Linked DNA regions of Homo sapiens: region 1 is linked to region 2. The links come from fine-mapping of genetic effects on gene expression. A gene starts in region 2. The other region holds a variant in brackets. All regions are shown on one strand. Distances are from middle to middle.

Region 1 (10,923 bases), 510 kb before region 2:
AATGGATTCCCTTTTTTTCTTAAGCTACTTTGTAGATGCTGTCAGAAGGGCCTCTGTGTCGTAAGGGACTAGGGGCTATTTATGCGGGTAAGGATGGGGTGGAGGCTATGATCCTATATGCCATTTTATTAGGAAAACATTTGGTGTTTAGCTCTCTGGGTAGGGAAGAGATGCATCTTTCTGCCCCCTGAGAAAAGAGAAGTAGGAAGGTCATGGAGGGCCATGGTGACCCACATGGCAGGACGTCTTCAGAGCCAAACCAGAGTGACCTCATTGAGGCAGTGGCCTCCAGAAGTTGTCAAACAGAGTTAAGCACAGAAGATGCAAGGGTTTGGTGGAGAGTGGACACAGACTGTCGTCTGTCTCTACCAAGACGGTCAGTGTTATTGTCTCATGGCGGGGAATTTGGGCCACGTGCAGAGAACATGAACTTTAAAATCCACACAGAACTGGACTCAAATTCTGGTGCTGCTGCCACTTGCTCACTGTATGACCCTGGGTGAAGAAATATGTGTATCTGGGCCTCATTGTCCTTGTCTACAAAATGGGGGTAAAAATAGCACTGACCTCATTGGGATGTGGAGAGTGTTCGTGCAGCAGTGACCAGAGCTGGTGGGTGAGAACCAGCTATAAGCATCGCCTCCCAGCTCCACGTGTAGTGACATCACAGCAGGGCTTGAAATTGACCATGGTGGGAAAATGTACACCATGGAAATGGTAAATATCAGAATTTGTCCTTTTTCTCCAGAGAGCTGGTTGTTTAACATTTACCAGCATCCTACTGGTGAAATGCCAAGACGTATTTAAATTGCTATCCACAGTGTTTGGTGGTGGTGATTACTAATTACGATTATATTAAGCATGTTACTCTAATATTACTAATATGAAATGGTTTTCATGATTGCGCTTTCAGTGTGTCCACTTTGACTCTTTTTTGTTGTTGTTGTTTTTATAGACTGGGTGTCTCGCTGTCACCCAGGCTGGGGTGCAGTGGTGTGATCACGGCTCACTGCAGCCTCAACCTCCTGGGCTCAAGTGATCCTCCTGCCTCAGCCTCCTGAGTAGCTGGGACTATAGGTGTGCACTATCACACCTGACTAACTTTTTTCATTTTTTTGTAAAGACGAAGTCTCGCTATTGTTGCCCAGGCTGGACTTGATCTTCTGGCCTCAAGCGATTCTCCTGCCTTAGCTTCCCAAAGCACTGGGATTACAGGCGTGAGCCACTACGCCCAGCCTGCGACATTTATTTTAACTGCTTGGAAGCCTTTTCTTCTAACCCTCTGGCTCCTAGCTCCATTCTGGAAAGCTGACATTATCAGTTAGCTGAGTTCTGAGTAGACGACATACCGTAGATGGTAATACCCAAACTAACATTTATTGAGCATGGACTAAGTGCCAGGCACTGGAAAAGCACTTCCTGCAGATATTCTCATTTAACCCACCCAACAACTCTATGAGGTATGAACCCCATGTTGTGAACACAGCCCGAGGCTCAGAGAAGTTAAGTGACTTGCTCTGGTTTGCACAGCTGCTTGATGGAGGGGCCAGGCTTTGAACCCTCGCATTTTGACTGTAGAGTCTGTGCTTTCATCAGGAGGATCTGCAGAGGCTAAACGTGGAAGGGGCCGGTGTTTGGTCCCTGAGAGTGGACCCTCCTTGCTGGGAGGCTTGGGCGGGGGTAGCGGACACTGCCCAGGACCGAGAAGTCCTGACGGCATCATCTGCTTGGCGAACAGCAACCGTCCAACTTTCTGGGACGCGTGCCGGCCGCATTCTGATTGGCGAGGGGATGTCTCTGTTGGAAGGGAATCTTGGCCACTTGCCCCTTGGCAGCAGGCTGCTGGCTGCCACGTGGAGTGCCGTTTGGAGGCGGTGGGAATTATTCGGCAACCTTGCCTGGGATAGCTTGGAATGGATTGTGGCAGGGCAGGGCGGGGGCTCTGCCAGTCTCCTAGACAGGCTGGCAGGGAGAGCGAGAGCGCCAGCACTGTCACAAGAAGCTCACAGTCTCAGCTTCTGCACTGTCCTCCCTGCCCCTGTCTGTCTCTGTCTCTTGCTATCCCTTGGCCTCTCTTTCTGCCAGGACTTGAGCTGACAGGTGGTTTGGCACCAAGGGAAGCACCATCCCCTGTCCCCACAGGCCTTCTTTCCTTCACCTGCACTGAAGCTTAGGGGCTTTTGCTTCTTCCACTGTTCCCTATTTCCATCGAGATAAAGTTCACACTCCTTGACTTGGCTCGAAAACCTCTTGTGATATGACCCCTGCCTCTCGGTTCTGTAGCTTGTGCCCCTAAGTAGACCATGGGCTTCTCGAGGGGGAGGGCCTGTTTCATCCTCAACTTTTTATTTTTCTGTAATGCCTAGCCCAGAGCTCACTCAGAACAAGTGGGTGAACTTGAAAGGCAAGGAGGGGTGACCCCCGTCCATGGTAGAAGGGACCGAGTCACTTCAGGATTTGCAGTCATAGCCTGTGCTGCATCTTAAGGCAGATTTACCACGTTGTCAGATGCCATGCAAAGCTCTAAGTTTTTTCTGTTCCTATCTCATTTAATCCTCCTAACAATCCTATTAGGTTGGCCCTGGGTTTGTTTGTTTGTTTGTTTGTTTGTTTGTTTGTTTCTTTTTTGAGATGGAGTCTTGCTCTGTTGCCCAGGCTGGAGTGCAGTGGCATGATCTTAGCTCACTGCAACCTCTGCTTCCTGAGTTCAAGTGATTCTCATGCCTCAGCCTTCTGAGTAGCTGGAATTACAGGTACACGCCACCACGCCCAGCTAATTTTTGTATTTTTGTAGAGAAGGGGTGTCACCATGTTGGCCAGGCTGGTCTCGAACTCCTGACCTCAAGTTAACCACCCACCTCTGCCTCCCAAAGTGCTGGGATTACAGTTGTGAGCCACTGCGCTCAGGGTACGCCCTGTTTTATCCCCATTTTACAGAGGAGGAAACTGAGGCACAGAGAGATCACCTAGAGAGGGCAGTGATAAGATTTGAACTCAAGCCAGTCCGGAGCCAAGCTGGCTGGAGTGAAGTCTTTCTAAACTGCCCTGACAGATGTGCACCGTCTCAGCGCCGTTCCTCCCCAACCCATTTCCTGAGGCCTCATCAGACAGCAACCCAGTTTGTGGCTCCTCACCTCACCCCAACTCTGCTGTGTTCACACATCCTTGATGAATTAACCTGGGCAACACCAGCCCTGCCTGTCACACTGATAAAGGTAGAGCTGTGGAGATCTGGGTTGCAGAAGATGTCACAAGCCCTTCTCTCTGCCTGTCACCTGTCCCCTGCAGATTCCAGGGCTGCTCAGAAGTTTTGGAGAATAGCTGGAATGATCCTTATTGATCTGATGGGTGGGTGTTTGGAAACAAGGAGAGACGCACTAAGTTGGTTCCTTCCAAGCAGGACCTCCCACCACACCAGAACCTCGTCCCGTCGGTCAAGGGTGGCCCATGTGGCTCAGCATGCTGGGGACTGATTGTTTCCACGTTCCCTAGCTCTGCCTGACAACAGAGCGACATTCCTGTGCCATCACAGGGGAGAGTCGCATTGTGTTAGTGACTCCCCATCAAACTGTGTCATATTGGGATTGTATTGTATTCATAGTTGTTTCCACTAATGTGATATGAAAGTTACTAATCGGAGAAGACTCCTGCATTGTATTAGGGAAAACAAATATTAATATGAGTCGATGGAAGTAGCTAATAAGAAACGCAAGTTGCTAATAGGACATGATGGATCAGTGGGAGGAATTTGGGTCGGGTGCTTGAACTTTTGTGGAATGCTCAGCCGGGTGGGGGTTGCAAGATGGCAGGAACTCTATGTTATAGTCGCTCAGAGTATGAAGGTCCATATCAGAGCCCCCTGCCTGCCCCCTCCCCCCACTGTCATCACTACCCCTCCATCTCACCTCTGTCCTGCATTGAATGGCATCCGCCAAAATTCATGTCCACCTAGAACCTCAGGGTATGACCTTATTTAGAAACAGGGTCTCTGCAGGTGAAATCAGTTAAGATGAGGCCATACTAGAGTAGGGTGGGCCCTAAATCTAATGACTGATTGTACTTGTCAAAAGGCCACATGAAGACAGGGACACTCAGGGAGAAAGTCATGTGATGACAGAGGCAGGGATGGGAGCGATGCCACAAGCCCAGCAACACCAAGGATGGCCGCGACCACCAGCAGCTGGAGGTGGCGAGGAAGGACCCTCCCCTGGAGCCTGCAGAGTGAGCGCAGCCCTGCCAGCCC[A/T]CACCTTGATTTCAGACTTCCAGCCTCCAGAAGCGGGAGAGAAGACATTCCTGTTGTTTTAAACTCCCCTAGTTGGTGGTAATTCATCACAGCGTCCGTAGGAACAGAACCCCCTTTCCCCACCATGCCCCAGAAAAGCAGGGATGGCCACAACCATACTCGTTTTATTCAAAGATAGCCAATCGGATCAGGGACATTCTTCCACCCTCAGCGGGTCGGCCTGGCTGCCTAACCAGCCCTGAGGATGGAGGGCTGGCTCTCTCCCTGACTTTGTTCTTTTAAAGAGGAAAAAGCCTCCTCAGTGGCAGGGTGGTTGGCATATGGGCTCCGCAGCCTGCTTCGCGTCACGTTAATATGTGATTAAAGGGGTCTTAAAACGCCCATTAGTCCCCCTCTGGTATCTAATAGCGCTTTTGGATTTAGAACAGAATATTATTTACTCATTAGCTGATAATAGACCCTGAGTACACGCCTTATGTATTGGGACAATTATTAGAGTCGATTACACACAGAGACGTGGTTCTGCTGGGGTGGCTGGTGGCAGGCCAGGGTGGTCCAGAGGGCATGAGGGTGGCAGGGAATGACTATGGGCCATATGTGGACAGCAGGGAGCCCGCTAGAGATTGTGTGTGGCAGCTGTGGATGGAAGCAAATTCCCTGTGCAAACAGGGCCACTGGATGCCCCATGCAAGGTACTAGGGGGAAGAATTTAAGGAAACTGCCTCCAAGAATTGGGGTGCCAACAGTAACAGCCCCTATGCAGCAGTAAGGGATTGCACTTGAGCATTCGTCCTGAGTCTCCCAGGATGAGAGTATTAAGAACAATAACTGGCCAGGCGTGGTGGCTCACGCCTGTAATCCCAGCACTTTGGGAGGCAGATCACCTGAGGTCGGGAGTTCAAGACCAGCCTGACCAATATGGAGAAACCCCTTCTCTACTAAAAATGCAAAATTAGCCGGGAGTGGTGGCACATGCCTGTAATCCCAGCTACTCGGGAAGTTGAGGCAGGAGAATCACTTGAACCTGGGAGGCAGAGGTTGTGGTAAGCCAAGATCATGCCATTGCACTCCAGCCTGGGCAACAAGAGCAAAGCTCCGTCTCAAAGAAAGAAAGAAAAAAAAAAAAACTGCCCCCACCGTGGATCACAGGATAGGGTGATGTGCCCAGGATACACAGCTAGGAAGTGACTGAAGCTGGATGCACACCCCCAGCTCTTCTTTTTTTTTTTTTTTTTTTTTTTTTTGAGACGGTGTGTCACTCTGTCACCCAGGCTGGAATGCAGTGGCACGATCTCAGCTCACTGCAACCCCTGCCTCCTGAAACCCAGTTCTTCTGATGACAAAGCCTGGGTTCTTTTCAACATCCTCTCCACTTGCTGCAGAAACTGCTCAATGATTCCAGTCTTCCCCATTCTCCGACAGAAAGAGGAACTTTGACATCACTTCCTCTTATGTGTGGTGTGTTGGAAAGATGAAAATAGCAGGTTGTTCCTCTCCGTGGCTGGGTCCCTGACCTCGGGCCCAGCGTGGTAGGAAGGCCGAGGTGGAGGGAATAAGCATGTGGAAGCCATGGGAGTGTCTCCTGGGAAGCGGGAGAGATTAAGGAGGGATGGACCGGGCCCATGTCTGGCATCGGCAATTCTGGTCAAGGTGCATGGGAATGGGAGGGGAGTGGGGAAGCGCCAGGTAGGGTCCAGCAAGGTGTTCTGGTTGCCCTGGTGATGCCTCTTGGGCTGTGACCCAGAGTGGCGTTGGCATCCAAGGAGAGAATAGGTGCTGGTAACACCTGGAGTCATCCCAGCAGGTGTCAGTGGCTGATTCCACTTGGGGGTGACAGAGATGGAGAAGTTGGGCAACCCCCAGTCTGATGGACGGGGTGCAGAGTATGGAAGGAAAGCCTCGAGTTTGACCTTCACACACACCTTGACCTTGTTGGCAAGCCCGATCTGCAGGTCATCAGTTTGCAGTGATTTTGCCAGTGAACACCTGAGCCCCTTAGTGCATTGTGCAGCCTGCTGAGAGCACCAAAAACCTCCCCTTAATACCCAGACTCACTGCGGCTTTTCTGAGACCGGCCAGAAGGACAGACGAGAGGGGTTTCTTATGCACCAGTGGGAGTGGGTCTCTCTCTGACCCAATGCAAGCAGCCCGGAGACATCTTGCTTCCTTGTTTCCATGGCTTGTGGGGAAACCCCGGTCCCGTGTCCCTGTGCACGCAGATGGCTAGTGGCTCAGTGGGTCTCCGGAGCACAGCCACCTGACACATCTGGGGCTATGGGACGGAAAAGCCCAGAGTGCCCTCTCTGAGGAGTCATCCCAGCCTGTGGCCACAGTGATGCTGAAGGGGTTTGCAGGCCATAATTAGGGGCTCAGTGTCACCTTTGTCCAGTGCCTGAGCTGAGAACAGGGCTCCCTGGTGAAAGAATGGCAGGGTCCCTTTTCGCCTCCCGGGGAAGGAGCCGGAGAGAAGGCAGAGCTTGGGAAATTGGCCCTCTGTCTTCTCCCATCCAGATATGTGGGTCCTGGGCCTTACCTGTACCAAATAAATAACCCATTTCCCAATGGGCAGGCAGCATATGCACTCTCTGTGTGTGCGTGTGCCTGTGCCTGTGTACACGTGCGTGTGTGTGCGTGCATGTGCATGCACCTGTGTGTGTGTGCATGTGCCTGTGTGTGCGCATGTGTGTGCATATGCCTGTGTGTACCTGTGCCTGCGTATACATGTGCATGTGCACACGTGTGTGCATGCACCTGTGCGTATGCATGTCTCTGCGTGTGCATATGCTTGTGTGTGTGTGTGCATGTGCCTTTGTGTGTGCATGTGCCTCTGTGTGTGTGTTTGTGTGTGTATGTGCATGTGTGTTTGCCTGTTTTTTAATAAAGCTCACCAGGAGCCAGATATCAATTTCTGTCAGAGAGACGCAGAGCATCTGAACCAGAACTAAATAAAAATAAACATTAAACAATTATTGGAATTTAGGTTTATTTAAAAAATCAGCAGGGTTGAGGGAACCAGCCACCCATTAGCGAGGCAGAACTATCGGGCCTTTTAACAACCCGCTGGTTCTTGGCTGCCAGAGAGATTTGGGCTGTCCAAGCTGTAGAAACTCCAGATCCTATTGATTAAAGATGATGCAGTAACGAACAAATTATATCATCGTGGCTGCTTGTGGTGCTGGCCAACACTGGCTACCTGTTTGTCTTGATGGAAATGGCTCTATCTGGGGGACTCCGGGAGGGTGGTTCAGTGTCCCCATCCCAGCCAGCGCTTTCCACTCTGTGCAGTTCCTGCAGCTGGGTGGAGGCTCCGAACCTCGAGCTGTCTGGGGTTCTTGTGTTTTTCTCCTCTCTGTCCCTTCCATGGACATCTGTAGTTTAAAAGGAGTCTGTGTCTTGTCAACCAAATCAATGCAAATAACCAGTGAACGTTTCTCGACTTTTCAGTAATAATTGATCTTCCCAGAACTGATATCGTTTGGAAAACGTAAGTAAGGAGATCAGCAGTGAGCCAGATGTCCACACTAAGAGAATATAACTGCTCTGAGTTATAGGAAAAGAAATGATTTCCCTTCCAGCTTTAGCTCCAAGAGCTGAGCAAACTGCCGTGCAGCATCGAGAAGCTTCCAATAAACTCGGGGCTTAGTTCGAGGCAGCCTCAGCCTCTCAGCCAGAAGACTTGGGTGAGTGCGGGACTGGAATCTTCCAAGCTGATGGGCAGACTTCTTGCCTGCAAATTTTTGGTCTCTAGGTTTTTATCTGGAAGCTGTCTGCACAGCCAGTTGCTGTCAGGGAGAGAGAGGTTTGTTGTTCTTCTTGAGGGATGTTCAGGCTTAGACCCTGAGCTGGGCATCTACTGCGTGGGAGTCTCCCCTTGGCTGGTTCTTTGGTTGATGTTCTTGTTGTTCTAATTTGATGGTCATTCCCATACATTGCTGTGATTGGCTCCTGACTTGACCAGGGTGATACTCAGAAAGTCAAATGGGGACGGGGACAGGGTTGATCTGTGGGCTGGTGGATGGAAAATAGGATGCCAGGGGGCACTTTCTTTATGAACACTGTCATTCTTCCAGAACTCATTCATTTGTTCATTTGAGCATTCATTCATGTGCTCATGCAACATATAGTTCCGGGGCACCTACTCTCTTCTAGGCACGATGAGGTGCTGGGCGCACAGGGGTACCTGCCCTCCTGGAGCTTTTAGTCTAGCTATGAAGAGGCACAGACTTGAAATAGTTCCTGATGACATCACAGTTGCCATAGTGCTTCATAGAGGTGAGGAGGCAGCAGCAGGGGCTCACGACAGCAGGAAACTGGCCTCATGTTGGGGTGTTGGTCTGCTGGAAGTAATGTTTAAGCTGCAACTTGGCTGAGGGGTAGGCCTGAGTTAGGCCATTGATTTTCAGACTTGAGCATGCATTTAAATCACCTGAAATTTCCTTGAAAAAAATCGCCAGGCTCTACCCTCAGAGTTTCTGATTCAGTAGGTCTGGAGCCCGTCCAAGAATTTGCATTTCTAACAAGATCCCAGGTGACACTGATCCTGCTGGGCCAGAGACTTTGGGAACCACTGAACTGGGCAAAGAATTGGGAGGAGAGGGCATTCAGGTAGCGGAAACTGCACGTACAAAGGTCCTGGGGCTGGTTTGGGCTTGGCAGTTTCCAGGAACCAAATGAAGGGCCAGAGGGTGGAGCAAAGCACAAGGACTGTGGGAGGAAATGCTGTAGAGAAGCAGGCAGGGCCCTGACCACACAGGCCTTGCAGACTGGGCTGGAGAGTTCAGATTTGATCTGAAATGGAATGGGGAGTCCGGGGAGGTTTTAAGCAGGGAAGTATCAACATCCAGTTTACATCTTGAAATGCCCTGTCTGGCTGCCAGGGTGGAAGTGAGATGGCAGAGAATTGCATGGAGCCAGGGAGGCCCCTGCAAGCATCCAGGCAGGAATTGGCAGTGACCAGACCAGGCTGATGACAGCAGGCATGGAGAGGCACGGGACGTGTCTGAATGAGTCCACGCTCCTGCTTTCCAGGAAGTTTTCCTGATCAGTTTGGTTCCACCCTTCAATCTGTGAACCCTAATTTCTCACTTGAAGAAGTTGTCCTATGTTGACGTGACATTAGCAGTTCCTTGAGGGTAGGGCTGTGTGTGTCATATGTGAGTCACATGCAGCCCCTAGTTGGATACACAATACCTTATACTAGCTGGCCAAAAGCACGGGACAGTTTACCTGCAATGGTTACCACATCCAGTTTTCCAAATACCCTGCAGGAAAGGTGGAGTTGTGCCCATTTTGCAGAGGGGGAAAACTGAGATTCAGAAAGGGCACGGGATACTCCCAAGCTCCCCAAGGTGGGCTGAAGGAAAAGCAAGATTCCCTCTACAGACTGGGGTGCCCTCTGGTGACCAGACAAAGGGAACAGGGACATCACCACCCGTGAACCCTAGACAGCAACCACAATTCTCTTTGGAGGTATCAGCAGCCTTCCCCAGGATGATGATCAGGCCACCGGAAATATTAAGCAGATAGAGAAGAAATTGCAGTTTTGAAGAAGTCAAAAATGGCCAAATAGCAGCAGTTTCCTGTGGTTCAACTGAAATCAAAATATAAAGAGGAAATCTTACAATTCCAGAAAATTCTGCTACAGCATGAGGAAGAGGAGTCACCATGCAGTCTAAATTGTCTCTGGAAGCAGCTCCCCCCCACACACAGAAGAGGGGGCCGTACAGGGATGCAGCATCTTAGAATCAGTCTATAATGCAATCAATTTTGTACATCCCTGGTGAAACAGCAACATTTATTTAACGTCTTTTATAGAGCAGCTGAGTTTTATCACAAATCACATTCCATTTCTATTCATCTGGGACTCCTTGAAGGCTAAAATGCACTTACTTTTCTCCGAGGAAATTTACCAATTCCTCAGTAAAGACCCATTTGCCTCTGTATGTAAAATTGACACATTTATTGAATATTAAACATTTAAGGTTTTTTTTACCAACCCCCTCCCCACCCACACCTTTTTTTTTTTTTTTTTTTTACACTTTTCCACAAAGCTTCATAGTCATTAGGGAACCTTCCTCAAAGTGGTGAGAAACACATATTTATGGGCAGAAACCAGCCGACATTTAAATTTGGGGCTTTCTGATTACTGGGAAATGGTCAAGTGACATCATAAATTTATAGAGCAGCACCCCATGCCTTTGAGTGGCCTCTCTAAGCTGTGTGCTTTTCCCATCTCTTTGTGGCAGGCTTGGTCACGCGGCAATATCGTGTTGGGTTCTCAACAAAAGTTTTTTTGTCTACACTCATAACATTTGCAGAAGGTAGGGACTGCCTCCCTGGCAATAAATTGTGCTAATTAGCATGAGGGCCTATTAATAAAGCAAGTTTTCTTTTATCCATGTTACTGAATGGTCGGAGACATCAGTTAAAGTGTATGTTCAAGACAATGTCTTTTTCACCGCCGGTTGCAATGTTTTTGTTTAAAAAAAAAAAGTAAGCGGGGATCTGGGCAGCTTATTGTACATGTTTTTGTGTCTTTAACATGAGAGACGGCTGAACTGTTGAACTTAGGTCTTGAATGTTGGGTCCAGATCTCCTACCTCTGTCTCTAAATCAAGGCATTAGGTGGCAGGGGCGGGAAGGCAGTGGGTGCTTTTCCCTAGATTGGGGGGAGAACTGAT
Region 2 (10,675 bases):
ATTAGAGTGTCTTGAATAGATGAGGTATGGTTAGTTTAAACAATACTAGACAACTTTTATGTCCAAGAAAACAGGAAAAAATAAAAATTGTAATATTTCATTAATGAACTGTTCTATATTATACCCCCCATTGGACTTTTTAATCTTCAGTTCAACATTTATTACGGTTATAAATCTGCATTCGGTAAATTTGCAGTGTTTTACTCTCATCAATGTTTGAATAATAATCTGTCACTGGTGGCCAGGCACAGTAGCTCATGCTCGTAATCCCAGCACTTTGGCAGGCCGAGGCGGGTGGATCACGAGGTCAGGAGATCGAGACCATCCTGGCTAACACGGTGAAACCCCATCTCTACTAAAAATACAAAAAAAATTAGCCGGGCATGGTGGCAGGTGCTTGTAGTCCCAGCTACTTGGGAGGCTGAGGCAGGAGAATGGTGTGAACCTGGGAGGCAGAGCTTGCAGTGAGCCAATATCGCGCCATTGCACTCCAGCCTGGGCCACAGAGCAAGACTCCATCTCAAAAAAAAAAAAAAAAAAAAAAATCTGTCACTGGTTAACTTAAAAGCACAACTCTGGCTATGGACCTCTCTTAAAAGGCCTAAAAAAACAGCTCTAAATATACGAGAGAATTCTGTCTTTTTTTTTTTCAGAGTCTTGCTGCATGGTCTCGGCTCACTGCAACCTCTGACTCCTGGGTTCAAGCAATTCTCCTGCTCAGCCTCCCAAGTAGCTGGGATTACAGACGCGTGCCACCACGCCGGGCTAATTTTTGTATTTTTAGTAGAGATGGGGTTTCACTATGTTGGCCAGGCTGGTTTCGAACTCCTGACCTCGTGATCCCCCGCCTCGGCCTCCCAAAGTACTGGGATTACAGGCGTGAGCCACCACGCCCGGCAAGAGAGAATTCTAAACCATGAGGATGTAACTGAGGATTACAGGAAGTGTTACCAAGTTGAGATGGCTGGAATAGAGAGGAAAGAAAATCCTCCCACAATGCAATTTGTTTTTTGAAATGCTGCAAACTCACTTGACAGCTGTGATCCAGAATGGCTACCTGTGCCGGGTGCAGTGACTCACACCTGTAATCCCAACACTTTGGGAGGCTGAGGTGGGCTGATCACTTGAGGTTAGGAGTTCGAGACCAGCCTAGCCAACATGATGAAACCCCATCTCTGCCAAAAAAAAAAAAAAAATTAACTGGGCGTGGTGGTGTGCACCTGTGGTCCCAGCTACTCTGAGGCAGGAGAATTGCTTGAACCCGGGAGGGGAGGTTGCAGTGAGCCAGGATTGCACCACTGCACTCCAGCCTGAGTTATGGAGTGAGACCCTGTCTCAAAAAAAAACAAAACAAAAAACAAAACAAAAAACAAAACAAAAAACAAAATGGCTACCTGAATAGTCACTGTTTTCCCAGTAGAGATCTGGCAAATGAGTTAGCACAAGAACAGCCTTAAGGTATCAGCTACCATTACCCAAGAAGGTAGTGGCTGGGCTTGTGGATTATCTAGCCAAATGCTTCCTTTCCTTGGGGCTCTAGCAAGCTTTGTTTGAACCACAGAAAATGGTAAAAAAGAGGTAATAAAATTGTAATGAGTTAACTGACTTCTTAGCAGCCTCTTCAGTAAAGATTTGGTGGGGACATGAGACTACAAAGATGCTGTGGATCATTTTCTTTGTCCTTTCAATTCCCCATCACCTTCCATGCCTATCTGCTAAGAAAACATTTTCCTGGCAGGGCGCAGTGGCTCACGCCTGTAATCCCAGCACTTTGGGAGGCTGAGGCGGGCGGATAACCTGAGGTCGGAGTTCAAGACCAGCCTGGCCAACAGGGTGAAACCCCATCTCTACTAAAAATACAAAAAATTAGCTAGGTGTGGTGGTGGGCACCTGTAATCCCAGCTACTTGGGAGGCTGAGGAAGGAGAATCACTTGAACTCAGGAGGCAGAAGATGCAGTGATCTGAGATCGCGCCATTGCACTCCAGCCTGGGCAACGAGACCGAAACTCCATTTCAAAAAAAAAAAAAGAAAACATTTTTCCCACATATTCTCTTAAGTGTATCCACAAGCATTTCTTTTATAAGGAAAAGCTTTGACCCAATCCACAAGATTAATCAAATGTAAAACATCTGAGAATTCTCTAACATACAACAGACAAAAGTATTATTATTTTGAAGCTTAAAATACCCACTTTCCTTCAGGACAAGAGACTATGCTAAAGCAAAGCAAAAAAAAAAAAAAAAAAATTGACTAACCCCCAAGAAAAGAGGGTTTTCTTACTTTGTCTTATATAGGTGCATAATACCATGAACTATTTCAACTGATGGATTTCCACTGAAGAATGAAATCTGGTCTGGAAGCTGTTTGGACGGAGAATCTGGGGCAGCGTTTATGCATTCCTTACTGTGATCTTTACTTCTTTGCGCAGTGGGGGAGGCTTCTGAAGACTTCCTTTCTTCCACTGTAGTTTTTAGTTCATCTTTCACCAGTTAAAAAATAGCAGATTATAAATGGATAGGACATATGCTGAAGGATTTGAACTAGATTAAAATTTCAAGTCAGAGGAATAAACTTTGATAGAGTAATTACAATGTAATGCATTAACAGCTATTATTTGTAGAATAGCTGAGTTTATGAGGGCATCATACTTTAAAGCTCTCTTTGCTCCATAAAAATCTCATTAACACCCTCAGAAACTTAAGGATGGCTATTACATTTGGCAATACCATAATGCAAGCAGGTATCTTCTATCACGAAATCCTAACTGGGACAAACATTCAGGGCTACTAAGGTGGAAATCCAAACCTACCAGTTCTGACCACCTCCATGTTGGAGATGTAGTACTATCTACACATCCACTTCCGCAGATAAAATGAGCTGGCTGGCCGGGTGCAGTGGCTCATGCCTGTAATCCCAGCACTTTGGGAGGTCAAGAGGTTGAGACCATCCTGGCTCACATGGTGAAACCCTGTCTCTACCAAAAATACAAAAATTAGCTGGGTGTAGTAGCGTGCACCTGTAGTCCCAGCTACTTGGGAGGCTGAGAGAGGAAGGAGAATTGCTTGAAACCAGGAGGTGGAGTTGCAGTAAGCCGAGATCATGCCACTGCACTCCCACCTGGGGACAAAGTGAGACTGTCTCAAAAAAAAAAAAAAAAAAAAAGAAAAGAAAGAAAGAAAAAATGAGCTGGCAGAGCAGGGGAAGGCACGACATGTTTATTTGGACACATTAATGATCTGCCACTGAACTAGGTGGTAAGAAATTCTCCCTGGTAGCCGGGTGTGGTGGCTCACACCTGTAATTCCAGCACTTTGGGAGGCCGAGGCAGGTGGATCACTTGAGACCAGGAGTATGAGACCAGCCTGGCTAACATGGAGAAACCTTGTCTCTACTGAAAATACAAAAATTACCCAGGCGTGGTAGAGGGCATCTGTAATCCCAGCTACTTGGGAGGCTGAGGCAGGAAGACTGCTTCAGCCCAGGAGGCTGAGGTTGTAATGACCCGACATTGCACCACTGCACTCTAGCCTGGGCAACAGAGACCCTGCCTCAAAAAAAAAAGTCCCCCCCGTCACTGAACTGAATTGTCAACTCCAACTGTTAGGATTAATTTGGAAGAAATATTTGGAAACACTAACATGTGGCTTAACAGTGTCATATAAAGCACACACGTAGTGAAAGACAAAAGTATGCTAGATGTTGAAATTGTAGGCTCATCAAACACCGTGTATAAAATAGGCAACCAGTGTTCACATTACAAAAGAGAGTCCAGGGTTTTAGAAAGCATACCTGGGTTGGACTTCATGGTCTCAATGATCACATCTGTCATTTCTCGACGGCCGAGATGCTGATGGATAATCGCTACTTTCTCTCCTGGTGACTTGCCTTCTAAACAGGCTACAGCTGAGGCTAGTGTCGTCTTTTTTATCTCCTCATCAGACATTTCCCCGGCTAAAGAACACATGAATGATTAATACAAGGTAATAAAACAAGCTCCTCTCTGTTCTCTATTCCTCTATCATTAGGTTTTCCTTTTCTTTCTCCTGCCTTCCGCCAAGATGATAAGAAGCCTTTGTAGTATCCATCTCACTCAACTCTGGGACCACTGCAGTACACAGCAAAGAGTCAATAAGCAGCCAGGACAATATACTCAGAAATGCAGGGCTGTTCTACTGAAATCATGCACTTTATTTTTATTTTTTGAGACAGAGTCTCACTCTGTCACCCAGGCTGGAGTGCAGTGGTGTGATCTTGGCTCACTGCAACCTCCACCTCCCAGGTTCAAGTGATTCTCCTGCCCCAGCCTCCCGAGTAGCTGGGATTACAGGCACGTGCCACCACGCCCAGCTAATTTTTGTACTTTCAGTAGAGATGGGGCTTCACCATGTTGGACAGGCTGGTCTCGAACTCCTGGCCTCAAAGTGATCCACCCGCCTTGACCTCCCAAAGCGCTGGAATTACAGGTTTGAGCCACTGCGCCTGGCCCAAAATCATGCACTTTAAAGCAAATCGCCAAAGAGGGAGCCTTAGAGAAGATGCAACAGTGATCATGCCCAGATGAGCTAACATTTTAGTAACACCTGATAAAATGAAATTGTGTTCAGCCCAAAATGAAGCTATCAAGTCCATTAAAAAAACAAAATTTCAAAAACTTGTAGGGGTAGTCTTAAACATCCTGGCTTATGCTCATGCCATGAACCAAGCCATGAACATCTGTGATTACTGTCTTAAATCAATGAAACACATGAAAAGGGAAACGGAATTTGGAGACTTAACTGAAATATCCCTAATACATGCTCTGTCAGGGCAGGGACAAGGCCTGTTTTGCCCACCACTGTATTCCCAGCCCTTATACCACAGTGCCGAGCACACAGAGGAAGCCCTCTAAATGTTTGATGAATAAATGACTACATGACTGACCCATGCAGATGTCTATATGCGGCTAATATCAATTTAGCTGACTCTCAGAACTCAGAAGCCACTTTTAGCCTTTGGAAAGGTGCTCATAAGCTATAAAGTCATATTCAATCTTTAATTTGCAGCTTCAAAGGTCACGTCCTCAGGAAGTTCCCAATGACACCATCCCTACCTGCCCCCATCCCTCTCTCCAAACCAAACACATCTTCTTGTAATACTTTCCCAAATTGTTTCTCCTTTCCTTCACAGCACTTACCACAGTTGTAATTCTACACATATTCTGCACTTATTTAATTCATCTGTTTCCTCCATGATACTGCTGGTGCCATTAAAACAGAGACGCTGTCTGATTCAGCACACAAGGAAGGCTCCAGCAGATATGAGCATAAGTTTTTTTTTTGTTTTTTTTTTTGAAATGGACTTTATCTCTTGTCGCCCAGGCTGGAGTGCAGTGCCACAATCTTGGCTCACCGCAACCTCCACCTCCCGGGTTCAAGCGATTCTCCTGCCTCAGCCTCCCCAGTAGCTGGGATTACAGGCACCTGTCACCACGCCCAGCTAATTTTTGTATTTTTAGTACAGACAGGGTTTCACCATGTTGGCCAGGCTGGTCTTGAACTCTCAACCTCAGGTGACCCGCCCGCCTCGGCCTCCCAAAGTGTGAGGATTACAGGCGTGAGCCACCGCGCCCGGCCAAGTATTTCTTGAATGAATGTTAGTTAATTATCTGAGGACCAAGGAACAGAGCCAGAGCTGCATTCCCCACTAAGGAGCTTCCTCACTTGTGTTAATGGTGTAAAAAGCTCAGACTCAAGTCCAGCTCACTGAGTTAGAATCCCAGTTTCACCCATTACAGATAACCTTGGGCAAATCAATTAATCACTAAGCTTCAGTTTCCCAATGTGTAAGAGGTACATGTCACATCCATCTGCCTCTTAGGGCTGTTGCAAAGATAATTAAAGAATACAATACACAAAAGGTGCTTAGTACAGTGCTGGGATATAGGAAGTGTCCAAATTTTAGTTATGACTATGGTTAGGGGGCACTTCAATGGATATCGTTCCAAAAGGGAACAATTTAATTAACCCAGGGACCGTCCAGCGTTGCTGGGGACCCAGTCCCTGCCTTTACGAAGCCCATAGGGAAGCAAGTGAGACAAACACACCACTCGACTATCTCGAGAGGGAGACGCGCCAGGTATAAACTAAATGCCCTCAGACGGCACAGGGAGGGAGGTTCGGGGCAGGGCTTCCCTGAGATAACAAACGGGAAGGCCTCTCAAAGGCGGATGGGAAAGAGAGGGATCCCGATTACCTCTCCGTGTCTTCCTGGGCAACAGCCCTCGCCGCGGGCTTTTCCCGGGCCAGTGCTTTGGGAAGGGAAGCCCTCCGGGCCCAGACCCGGCTACAGGGAATGCGGCGAGGCCGCGGGACTCACCCGCGGCGCTGAAGCCGAAGCCGGCGGGGACAGGCGAGTGTTCCGCGAGCTCCAATCGGATAACAACCAGTGACACACTCATAGGGCAGGCGCTGGCCGGCGCGGGCCCCGGCGGGCTCAGGCGAGGCTGGAAGGCGAGCCGAGAGGCCGAGCGGCCCGGGGCCGGCAGCGCCGCCACCACCTCAATGCAGTTGCCGCCGCCTCAGCAGCAGCAGCTCCTCGAACAGCCCTCGGAGCCACAACAACCTCCACTTCCGCCTCCCGGCCGCCGTCGCTGACCTGCGGTTTACGCATGCGCGCAGGACCGCGCACAGCGATTGGGCGGCGTGGCAGGGGTCACCCACTGCTCTTCCGGACGCAATTTTGAGGAGGTCGGAGCGGAAGGACGTCGTGGAGATTGCTTGCGCTGGGGTGCCACACTTAGGCTGAGCTGCAGGTTTTCGCACAGTCGCGAGTTAACCTCTGCTTGCTCCAGAGGCCTCGTCCTAATCCACCTCGGCTGACGGCGCGGGATCCCTGGCTCCGCGAGGTCTCCGAATTGTCCGAGCTATCTGCTATGCAGAACTTTGCCCCTTTTGTTGTGTTTGACTCCTGTCTCTAACCCTAGTCTGGATGGTTTTGTTTCTGTCCCACTTTACAGATAGGTACAACGAGGCTCAGAGAGGTGAAGTTCCTTCTAAGGGGCCGTAGAGAGTGGAGAGTCGATCGCTGTTCAGATAGCGATCTGGCTGGGCGCGGTGGCTCACGCCTGTAATCCCAGCCCAGAGGCTTAGGCGGGCGAATCACCTCAGGTCAGCAGTTCGAGACCAACCTGGCCAACATGGTGAAACCTCGTCTCTACTGAACATACAAAAAATTAGCCGGGCTTGGTGGCGCGCGTCTGTAGTCCAAGCTACTTGGGAGGCTGAGACAGGAGAATCGCTTGAACCCGGGAGGCGGAGGTTGCAGTGAGTCGAGATAGTGCTAGTGCACTCCCGCCTGGGCAACAAGAGCGAAACTCCGTCTCAAAAAAAAGAGAGAAAAGATGGTGATCTGCTGGTTACGAGCATAGTGCTGCAGTTAGACCGGGGTCCTCCTCCCCACCCTGTCACTTCACAAATGTTTACTGAGAGTCTAGACACCCTTGGGATGCTTGAGATACGTTGGCGTATAAGATAAACACAGTTCCTGTCCGTACTATGAGGTTGACCTACATCAGCAGTTGTGCAGTCTTGAACTAGTATAGTCATTGCATAAAGTTGGCATGATATCATGTCCTCATGCAGTTGTGAGGATGAAATGGAATTATGTATATGGAGATAACATTAGCTTTTCTGAGGCTCAGCATTCTTTCCAGTATGTCAGAGTGGCTTTTGTATGTAGATACTGACACAATCAATGCATATGGGACACATACATGACAGGATGCTACTCTAGGTACATTGTATAATGATACATATGTAAGTACATAGTACATTCTAGATGTGTGTGTGTGTGGACATAGTGCGTTCTAGATGTGTGTGTATCTGGACTATGACATGACCACAAGATACATGCGTATATAGATCTTGTGACTACATCCTATGAAATACGTTTCCATATGCCCTGTTTAAATCAGGGTTTCTCAACTCTGCACTATTAACATTTTGGGTCCTGATTATTCTTTTTTGTTTTTGGCAAGGGGGCGGGGTGTCCTGAGCATTGTAGAGTGTTTAGAAACATCCCTGGCCTGACCCACTAGATGTCAGTAGCACCTCTCCCCAGGTGGTGACAACCAATAATGTCTCTGGACCTTTCCAGATGTCTCCTTGGGGTTAGAAAACATAACCCTGTTGAAGAATCACAGGGTTATGTGAAAGTGCATAAACCATACACACATACTGTATGCATAAAACCTATGAGACCTCTTGTGAACTTTTTTAGTATATTACTATAGTAGATAACATTTCAACATGTGCCAGGTACTAATTTGAGTGTTTCATATACCTTGTGTCATGCAATGGTCACAACAACTTTATGAAACTGGTACTATGTCCCTGTTCTACAGAGGAGTAACCTGAGGCTTGGAGGAAGAGTAACTGGCTCAGGATTTCACAGGTAGTAGTGGCAGAGCTGGAACTGAAATTCAGGCAATCTGAATCCAGAACGAACATTCTTTATCTCTTTACCAAACAAACCTTTTTTTTTTTTTGTATTTTGAGACGGAGTCTCACTCTGTCGCCCAGGCTGGAGTGCAGTGGTGCCATCTCGGCTCACTGCAACCTCGGCTTCCTGGGTTCAAGCTTCCTGCCTCAGTCTCCCAAGTAGCTGGGACTACAGGCACACAGCACTGCACCCAGCTGATTTTTGTATTTTTTTTTAGAGATAGGGTTTCACCATGTTGGTCAGACTTGTCTCGAACTCCTGACCTTGTGATCCGCCCACTTCGGCCTCCCAAAGTGCTGGGATGACAGGCGTGAGCCACCGCGCCCGGCCCCCCCAAAGGCATTTTTCGTCTCTACTAAGCCCTCACACAAAATATACAAGTGTGTAAGTAAATTTCTCTTTCTATCATAAACATTGGCCTTGGCATAGGAACGTTAAGTAAAACTGAAAATGCAAATGAACCTTGACATTTTTAGTTTCAAATATTGCCCCCAAATTCAGCAAATTTCCAATTACTGTCGTTGCATGGTGGTATCCTCAGCAGATGGGTGCAGGACCCCCTGCAGATGCCAAAATCTGTGGATGCTCAAGTTCCTGATATACAATGGTGTAGCATTTGTTTATAACCTATGTACACCCTCCTATATGCTTTAACCCATTTCCCATTTAGAAAAAAAAAGTACTTGACTTGGTGTGGTGGCTCACGCCTGCAATCCCAGCACTTTGGGAGGCCGAGGCCGGTGGATCACTTGAGGTCAGGAGTTCGAGACCAGCCTGGCCAACATGGTTAACACCCGTCTCCACTATAAAAATACAAAAAATTAGCTGGATGTGGTGGCGAGCGCCTGTAGTCTCAGCTACTCGGGAGGCTGAGGCAAGAGAATAGCTTGAACCTGGGAGGCGGTTGCAGTGAGCCGAGATCACACCATTGCACTCCAGCCTGGGCGACAGAGCAAGACTCCGTCTCAAAACAAAACAAAAAAAAGAAAGCAAAAAAAGTGCAGCTCGCTGCCAGCACAGTATTCTCAGGGCAAGCAAGATATGAGTTAAGTAATCCCTAGATTGCTTATAATACTGGCTGGGCACGATGGCTCACGCCTGTAATCCCAGCACTTAGGGAGGCCAAGGTGGGTGGATAATGAGGTCAAGAGATCGAGACCATTCTGGCCAACATGGTGAAATCCTGTCTCCAGTAAAAACACAAAAATTAGCCAGGCGTGGTGGCACGCACCTGTAATCCCAGCTACTCGGGAGGCTGAGGCAGGAGAATCGCTTGAACCCAGGAGGTGGAGGTTGCAGTGAGCTCTGATCATGCCACCGCATTCCAGCCTGGTGACAGAGGGAGACTCCATATCAAAAAATATATATATTTAATATATATATCAAATCATATCCATATCAAAATATATAAATATATATACATGCATATATATGTATGTATACCTAAAACAGTGTAAGTACTGTGTAAATAAATAGTTGTTAACCTGTATTTTTTGTTTGCATTTTTTATTGTTGTGTTGTTATTTTTGTTGGTTTTTGTTTGTTTTTGAGATGGAGTCTCACTCTATAACCCCGGCTGGAATGTGGAGTGCAGTGGTGCAATCTTGGTTCACTGCAACCTCCACTTCCCTGGTTCAAGTGATTCTCATGTCCCAGCCTCCCGAGTATCTGGGATTACAGGTGTGCGCCACCACGCCTGGCTAATTTTTTTTCTGTGTTTTTAGTAGAGACGGGGCTTCACAATGTTGACCAGGTTGGTCTCGAACTCTCGACCTCAGGTGATCCGCCTACATTAGCATCCCAAAGTTCTGGGATTACAGGCGTCAGTTACTGTGCCCTTACTGTGTGTGTTTGTTTTGTTTTGTTTTACTTCAAATATTTTCTTCTTTTTTTTTTTTTGAGATGGAGTCTCACTCTGTTGCCCAGGCTGGAGTCCAGTGGCACCATCTCGGCTCACTGCAAGCTCCGCCTCCCCAGTTCACACCATTCTCCTGCCTCAGCCTCTTGAGTAGCTGGGACTACAGGTGCCCACCACCACGCCCGGCTAATTTTTTGTATTTTTAGTAGAGATGGGGTTTCACCGTGTTAGCCAGGATGGTCTCAATCTCCTGACTTTGTGATCCGCCCGCCTCGGCCTCCCAGAGTGCTGGGATTACAGGCGTGAGCCACTGCACCCGGCCTTACTTCGAATATTT

The links. PIP is the estimated chance that this variant, and not a neighbour inherited with it, causes the effect.
Region 1: its variant is fine-mapped to the expression of ACAD10 in whole blood (TOPMed, PIP above 0.99).

Annotation. Positions count from the first base shown.
Region 1 is chr12:111,165,085-111,176,007 of GRCh38, forward strand. All of the region lies in intron 1 of CUX2 (cut like homeobox 2), which reads left to right. Among named protein-coding and RNA genes, the nearest start is that of MIR6760, 130 kb to the right of the region's middle. The variant A/T (reference allele first, on the strand shown) is at 4,244.
Region 2 is chr12:111,679,355-111,690,029 of GRCh38, forward strand. ACAD10 (acyl-CoA dehydrogenase family member 10) reads left to right here and starts at 6,699. Exons shown (of 21, transcript NM_025247.6): 1 at 6,699-6,885. BRAP (BRCA1 associated protein) reads right to left here and starts at 6,602. Exons shown (of 12, transcript NM_006768.5): 1 at 6,357-6,602; 2 at 3,792-3,953; 3 at 2,283-2,481. The coding sequence starts at 6,438. RefSeq lists enhancers at 4,925-5,626, 5,627-6,328, 6,329-7,030 and a silencer at 6,375-6,474.